Linked DNA regions of Homo sapiens. Changing the gene in region 2 together with the main gene of any one other region gives a genetic interaction. Each region holds a gene or a part of one and is shown on either strand. Other genes may lie near its edges. The genes, in order: SREBF2 and RNF139.

Region 1 (3,822 bases), on a different chromosome or scaffold from region 2:
AGAAGTCATCAGCAGGATCTAAGAGGTGAATGGTCTTGTGTGGAGCTATTAGCCAAGAATAGAGGGTCCTTCTGCTATTCTTTTCTACCTCCTTGTAGACTCCAGTACTCCCACATCGAACACACATTGCTAATACTTTTTCGAGCGAAAAACAACTAAGAGGGGTGACATTTACAATTTGACTGATTTGTGCTATAGACCCTCCCATACCTACTCAGCATATAGAGATTTAACATCTCTGAAGACTAACACCTCCAGGAATAAAGGGGGAGGGAGGAGGGTGGGGGAGAAGGCAGCTCTTACTGGTACTTGAAGGGCAGCCGTCTGGATAGGGGTGGTGAGGGCGGTGAGGGCCGGGTTCTGGACCGCAGCCATAACAGGGCTGCCATCTGTCTTCAGTGTGGTCAAAACAAGGGAATCTGTCTTGATGATCTGAGGCTGGACCAGGACCTGGATGAAGAAGGAAGAAAAGTAAAAGGATGATAGCATTATCCTTCTGTTATGCATTCCTTTCTTACTGCATAGACCTTCCAAGAAAGAATGAGAAATGATATAATTTTTATGAAATTGAGAATAAAAAAATGAACAGGAAATTTCATAGAGGCCATTTCAAAAGCCGGCTATTTTGTACAGCCTGAATACCGGGTTCAGGTGGAGAAAGAGGGGCTAGCTAATGAGGGTCCTGGCTTTTTTTTTTTTTTTTTTTTTTTGCTGAGACAGGGTTGCTCTCTGTTGCCCAGGCTGGAGTGCAGTGGTGCAATCTCAGCTCACTGCAGCCTTGACCTCCCGGGCTCAAGTGATCCTGCTGCCTCAGCCTCCTGAGTAGCTGGGACTACAGGTGTGTGCCACCATGCCTGGCTAATTGTTTGTATTTTTTTGTAGAGACAGGGTTTCACCATGTTGCCCAGGCTGGTCCTGAACTTTTGGGTTCAAGAAATCCACCTGCCTCAGCCTCCCAAAGTGCTGAGATTACAGGCGTGAGCCATGGTGCTCAGCCAGGTCATGGGTTTTTAGGTTGAAAGACTTTCAAGAGGGTGGTGCCAGTGGCCCAGCAGGAGCAGAGCAGAGATGGGTAGGGTGGATGGCAGAGAGGAGAGAAAAGACTCAGGAAAGCCAGACACATGGCTGAGAAGCAAAAATAATAAACCTGATTTTTTTAAGATAAATTGTTAGTAAGAAAATATAGGCCAGATGTGGTGGCTCATGCTTGTAATCCCAGCACTTTGGGAGACCAAGGCAGGTGGATCATGAGGTCAGGAGTTTGAGACCAGCCTAACCAACATGGTGAAACCCTGTCTCTACTAAAAATACAAAAATTAGCTGGGCGTGATGGCGCGTGCCTGGAATCCCAGCTACTCGGGAGGCCGAGGCAGGAGAATTGCTTGAACCCAGGAGGCTGAGGTTGCACAGTGAGCCGAGATCGTGCCACTGCACTCCAGCCTGGGCGACAGAGCAAGACTCTCAAAAAAAAAAAAAGAAAAAAGAGGATATAGTCCACGATGATATATAACATAAAGACGTTTTTTGTGATTATAAAAATAATACACGTCCCCCAGCTGGGCACAGTGGCTCCCACCTGTAGTCTCAGCACTTTGGGAGGCCGAGATCGATGCACTGTTTGAGGCCAGGAGTTCAAAACCAGCCTGGCCAACCTGGAGAAACCCCATCTCTACTAAAAATACAAAAAACTAGCCAGGTGCAGTGGCAGGTGCTTGTAATCCCAGCTACTTGGGAGGCTGAGGCAGGAGAATCGCTTGAACCTGGTAGGCGGGGGTTGCAGGGAGCCAAGATCACGCCACTGCACTCCAACCTGGGCAACAAGAGCAAAACTGTCTCCAAAAAAAAAAAATTAAAAAAAAGATTAATAATACATGCCCCCCCTCCCCCCAACCCAATATATGTTCAGGATCCACAGCAGAAAATATGGAGAACAGAAAACTATGAAAGCCAAGGGCAGTGGCTCACGTCTGTAATCCCAGCACTTTGGGAGGCCGAGGCGGGTGGATCACAAGGTCAGAAGTTCAAGCCAGCCTGGCCAACATCCCGTCTCTACTAAAAATATAAAAATTAGCCGGGTGTGGTGGCACATGCCTGTAGTCCCAGCTACTCGGGAGGCTGAAGCAGCAGAACTGCTTGAACCCGGGAGGCGGAGGTTATAGTGAGCTGAGACCACACCACTCCACTCCAGCTTGGGCAACAGAATGAGACTCCGTCTCAAAACAACAACAACAACAAAAAAACACAACACAAAACTATGAAAAAGAAAATTATCTGGGAAATACCAATTTAGCACATTTCTTTCCAGTTTTATGCCCATTACATGTGTACGTAAGTGACTGCACCAGCCTTTCCTGAGTGCCAGTGTCTATCTACAGATATGGACTCAGCCAGGTCACTATACGCTGCTCACAGGTGCATCCTGGCGCCCTACAAGCTGCTTTGTGTACACTCTGGTTGGTCCTTCTTAGTATGTAGACCACATCTTCAACCAAGGACCAGTTAACAGCCCCAACCAGTGCCTCCCTGAATCCTTTCCAGCCACTTACCGGGACCTGCTGCACCTGTGGCGCAGCAACTGTCTGCACCGTAGCCGGGGCAAGGGTCTGCAGCGTGCCATTGGCCGTTTGTGTCAGCACCCGCTGGGCCTGTACTGTCTGCACCTGCTGCTGAATGGTGACCGGCTGTACCTGGGAGGATGTCACCAGGCTTTGGACTTGAGGCTGAAGGACTTGGGAGAAGAGGAGAAAGAAGGCACAGAGATGAGGAATGCATTCTGTCACTGCAGCTGCAGCAGAAACCTGAGGATGGAGTATCTCATAATGATTCCAACTCCCCACCTACTGCTGAAGATGATGTGCACAGCCATTTACAAGGTGGCTTAGACAACAAGAACATCCCATAAGGGCTGCATCAATTTCTGAGGGAACGAGTACAAATTGTTTTATTACTCTGGGTGCCAGGGTGGGGGAAAGGGAAGCTAATCAGCAAATGACTGCACCCAGCAAGGGAGTTAACAGATGTTGAGAATCAACAACTCCCTGGGGCTTCATTTTCTTCCATCCTTTCTGGACGGCAAGTGCACTTTGGGAGGACTGTCTCAGCTTTTTGCCTTTACATTCCCCCACCTGTCCCAATTCTTGAACTCCATTGAAGAACTATAAGATTCTTTGAAATTCAAAGCAATACTAATCTTACCCTGGGCTCCCCACAGAGTCAGAGGGAAATATGATGAAAAGGCACTGGGATGCAGCACATCACAGAAAGAACAGGCCCCTTTCAGTCATCCATTCCCTCAACACATACTAAGGGCCCAGCATGAGGCTTGCTACTTGAAGCTGCTGCACCTATATTAAAAGTCATATTCATCACCATAGTGGATGCTCAGATGTTTGCTGAATGAATAGTTCTCAACTGTGGCAGCTGAGATCTGGCTGCCGCCTAGCCAATTTCAAGCCTTATTCAAGTCTCCACCACTAGTTATCAGAATGGCCCTGTGTCTACTATGCTTGCTGGATTTTTTTTTTTCTTTTTAAGATGGGAGTCTCGCTCTGTTGCCTAGGCTGGAGTGCAGTGGCACGATCTCTGCTCACTGCAAGCTCTGCCTCCCGGGTTCACGCCATTCTCCTGCCTCAGCCTCCCGAGTAGCTGGGACTACAGGCGCCCGCCACCATGCCCGGCTAATTTTTTCTATTTTTTAGTAGAGATGGGGTTTCACTGAGTTAGCCAGGATGGTCTCAATCTCCTGACCTCGTGATCCGCCCGCCTTGGCCTCCCAAAGTGCTGGGATTACAGGCGTGAGCCACCGCGCCCGGCCGCTTGCTG
Region 2 (3,822 bases):
GAATACCAGGTTTTTTTTCAACCTAAAATGAGAATCCAATAGAAATGTTTTCTTTATAATTTATCAAGTATACCAACAGATTAACAACATTTCAAGACACTTTGTTGTAAACTTCATTGCGGAAGGCTCCCTTGGGAGTAAGGTAGTAGTAACATTTATTTCTGTGCTTTTCCATATTTATTCTGTCAGGTATTGAAATGTTTTTCCACAGGTTGCTTTTTGTTTTAGAGGTATTTCGGGTACTTGGAGAATTGTAAATATTATGTTTTGTACCCTGATTTTTAGTCATAAGTTTCCAAAAGAGGGTAAGGGTATGAATAGACTTTACACATAAAAGAGTGAAACACTTTGTTATGTAACATGTATAGTAAGTTTTTATTTTTTCTTTTGTTTTTATTTGCCTGTTTTTGGTAATCCAAATTGAAAAGGCCTGAACTCTTTCATGAGTTGAGTTCATATATAGTTTCAAAGTTCCTGAATTGATTTGGATACCTGCCTCTTTTTGGCTACCTTGAAAACTCTAGTGAACTCTCTTAATCACTGGAGAATTGGACTGAGATCTCTGAGTTGTGATTTCAGTAAATTCTGTTCTCAAAATTTTTTATAAAGCAGCATTTATATACAGTCTTGATTACTTGTGCAAGTCACTTCCAAATCCTAATGAGAAACTGTCTCTGGACTTTTATATTTTCTTAGACCTACAGTTTAAATACCAAGAAAGGCTTTCATGTCTAATGTAAAAATGCAGTGAAACTTTGATATTATTCTGCAAAGGCCATGAGAAAGATGATTACTTTGGAGACTTGTTACTTAGGATATTGGTTTTTAAAATGAGAGCAGATTCTTCCCAAATTCCATAGGTAGGAACGTGACTATAAAAGGAAAATCTATGAACCCCATATACCTACAAACTTTGGGTAGGAATTAAAACAAACATATACTATTCTTGAAATGTTAACTCACTATTACATCTTGGGGGGTGTGATTTTAATCAGGATAGAGTATTGTCAGATTGTTACTTGCTGGGATACATCCAAATTTTGAGGTTGTAGTCTTACTACATTATTTGTCTATCTGATGCCTTCCCCTTTTTTTCTTTGATACATTTGCATAAAGCAAAATGGCACTTTTTCACTAGAAATGTTTCTAAAACCCAAATAATTTCTTCATTTGTGTGTAGTAAAAACAAGCTTCAGGAAAAAAGTTATTAGAATTTTAAAAATTAGTTATAAAATTATGGCAAAGCTCATGAATAGTTACTGAAGATTAATTTACTACTTTGTGAATAGCAAGTTGACAAAAATAATTTACAGTTCCTGCTTGACTTTCTCCCCTCTAAGTGGCATAAAGTAGAACTAGAGTTATTTTGTTTTGGTTTTGACCCAACTTAGAAGATTTGTTTTAAAGTTTCTGAAGTTTTGTCTCAGGAAAATAAGGTGGTTTTCCATGTAGAGAATGTAAGATTACATATGGCATCTGGTAGGCTGAATTAATTCCATTTTCTTGTTACCTTCCATGGAAGAAGTTTCTAATAAAAAAATCTTTTCAGGGCCGAGCGCAGTGGCTCACGCCTATAATCGCAGTAGTTTGGGAGGCCGAAGCGGGTGGATCACCTGAGGTCAGGAGTTTGAGACCAGCCTGACCAACGTGGAAAAACCCTGTCTCTACTGAAAATGCAAAATTAGCTGGGAGTGGTGGTACATACCTGTAATCCCAGCTTCTTGGGAGGCTGAAGCAGAAGAATCGCTTGAACCTGGGAGGCAGAGGTTGCAGTGAGCCAAGATCACGCCATTGCACTCCAGCCTGGGCAACAGGAGCGAAACTCCATTAAAAAAAATATAAAAAAAAATATATATATATATAATATATATATATTATTTAAATATATATATATTTAAAAATATATATATTAAAAATATATATATATATTTAAATATATATATATTTAAAAATATATCTATTAAAAATATATATATATTATTTAAATATATATATATTTAAAAATATATATATTAAAAATATATATATTTAAAAGAGCCTGTTCTGAGCTCACAACTCTTTGGGGGATTATTAGTGGCCCATTTTCTTGGGGAATCAGGTGGTTTGTATTTAGAGGTTTATATGTCTTCTACTTTATTGTGTCCTTTTGTTTTCCTTTTCACAGATGACTTGACATTTTGGCACAGAATACATTTTAAATCCCTGGACAGAGTCATCACTTAAATGAACTAGCCCTTGCTTATATGTGCAGTGGATTGTGAAATGCGTCTACTGTAATAATATGCAATGTCTTGATTACCTGCTGAAATAAGGTGGATAGATGGATTTTTATTTTATTTAATATTTATTTATTTATGTATTTTGAGACAGGGTCTCACTGTCACCCAGGCTGGCATGCAGTGGTGCGATCTCAGCTAACTGCAATGCCTCCCGGGTTCAAGCGATTCTCCCACCTCAACCCCCTGAGTAGCTGGGAGTACAGGCACGTGCTACCACCCTGGCATATTTTTATATTTTTGGTAGAGACAGGGTTTCACCATGTTGACATGGTCTTGAACTCCTGGCCTCAAGTGATCCACCCGCCTCAGCCTCCCAAAGTGCTGGGATTACCATTGTGAGCCACCACACCCAGCCAAGATGGATTTTTAATTTGGAGTTTGTCACTTTTTCTGTACTCCAGGGTATGGTTTCTCATTGTCTGAAACATAGATTTTATTTTTCAAGCAGGCTATATTTTGTGGTTGCCTTTAAAAACATCCAGATGTGACAGACATTTCCTAATGAATACTAATTGTACTTATTTTGTACAAAATATTGTAGAATCCATAGATGGACAGGGTAGGATCTTTGCTTTCTGTTATAGATACATGTGTAATAGGGTAGATTATACTTAGATAACTGCAGACTACAATATCAGGTGATATATGAGTGTTAAATGTTTCACTAAGTTCTGCAGGTATGCTGAAAGAACAGTTTCTATCAAAGAAAGTAGGTTTCTAGGATAGGTAGGATTTGAATAGTCAGGGATTGGGAGGTTGGGGACATCATTCCAAGCAAAAAGAATGTAAACACTGCTGTAGCTATAGTGGAGAAAGGAATGTGTTTGGGGAATCCAAGTCTGGAGCACTGATGTGTGTGTGTTAGGAGGAATATTACTGTAAAGCAAATTGGGTTCTTGAATGCCAGGAGCAAGAATGTAGATTTTAGTTGATAGTAATTTCAGAGCCGCTGAAGTATTTTGAGCAGGGAATGAAGAAAGGCAATTTGGTGATGGCTTGTAAATGGATTTGGACAAGATGAGGGTTTTTTGAGACAGACTGATTGATTGGTGTCACAGAAAAGGGAGATAGAGGTGTTAGAAGAATTTGGCAACTAATTGGCAAAGTTTGAGCATGTGGGGCTGGGTTGGGAGTATCTCTAAAAGAACAATAATGGTACCTTCAACTGAAATAGCAAATCACAAGGAAAAGCTGATTCTAGTTTAAGGCAAGTCGAGTTTCAGAACTTTGGAGATTTGCAGTTGTAGGAGTGAAAGTAGGTGAGTATTCAGATGTCATTCCCATTGTTGAAACCTTGGATAATAATGTGTTTATTGTAATCCTACTTAAAATATGCATTTCTGTCAGAGTACAAAGAAAGATGGTGTCTATGGAGTGGGGGAAGGAGAATTACCATTTTCTAAAAACATGTCTTGGTTTTCTGAGTGTTACTTTTGTAATGTGAAGAACAATAAAAAGAGTTGACTATTTTAAGAAACAGATTCAGCATTATACAGGAAAAAGGGAACTTGGAAGATGTTTCTAAGTCCGAAGGAAACTAGGA

The links.
Region 1: changes in RNF139 (region 2) and SREBF2 together harm fitness less than expected from each alone (positive genetic interaction), as found in Homo sapiens cells (one large-scale study listed by BioGRID).

The regions. Positions count from the first base shown.
Region 1 is NC_000022.11:41,867,517-41,871,338, reverse strand, and holds part of SREBF2 (sterol regulatory element-binding protein 2), read right to left. Parts: intron 2,729-3,822; coding exon 2,547-2,728; intron 451-2,546; coding exon 304-450; intron 1-303.
Region 2 is NC_000008.11:124,481,096-124,484,917, forward strand, and holds part of RNF139 (E3 ubiquitin-protein ligase RNF139), read left to right. Parts: intron 1-2,164; exon of another isoform or gene 2,165-2,312; intron 2,313-3,822. UniProt on the Homo sapiens protein: E3-ubiquitin ligase; acts as a negative regulator of cell proliferation through mechanisms involving G2/M arrest and cell death.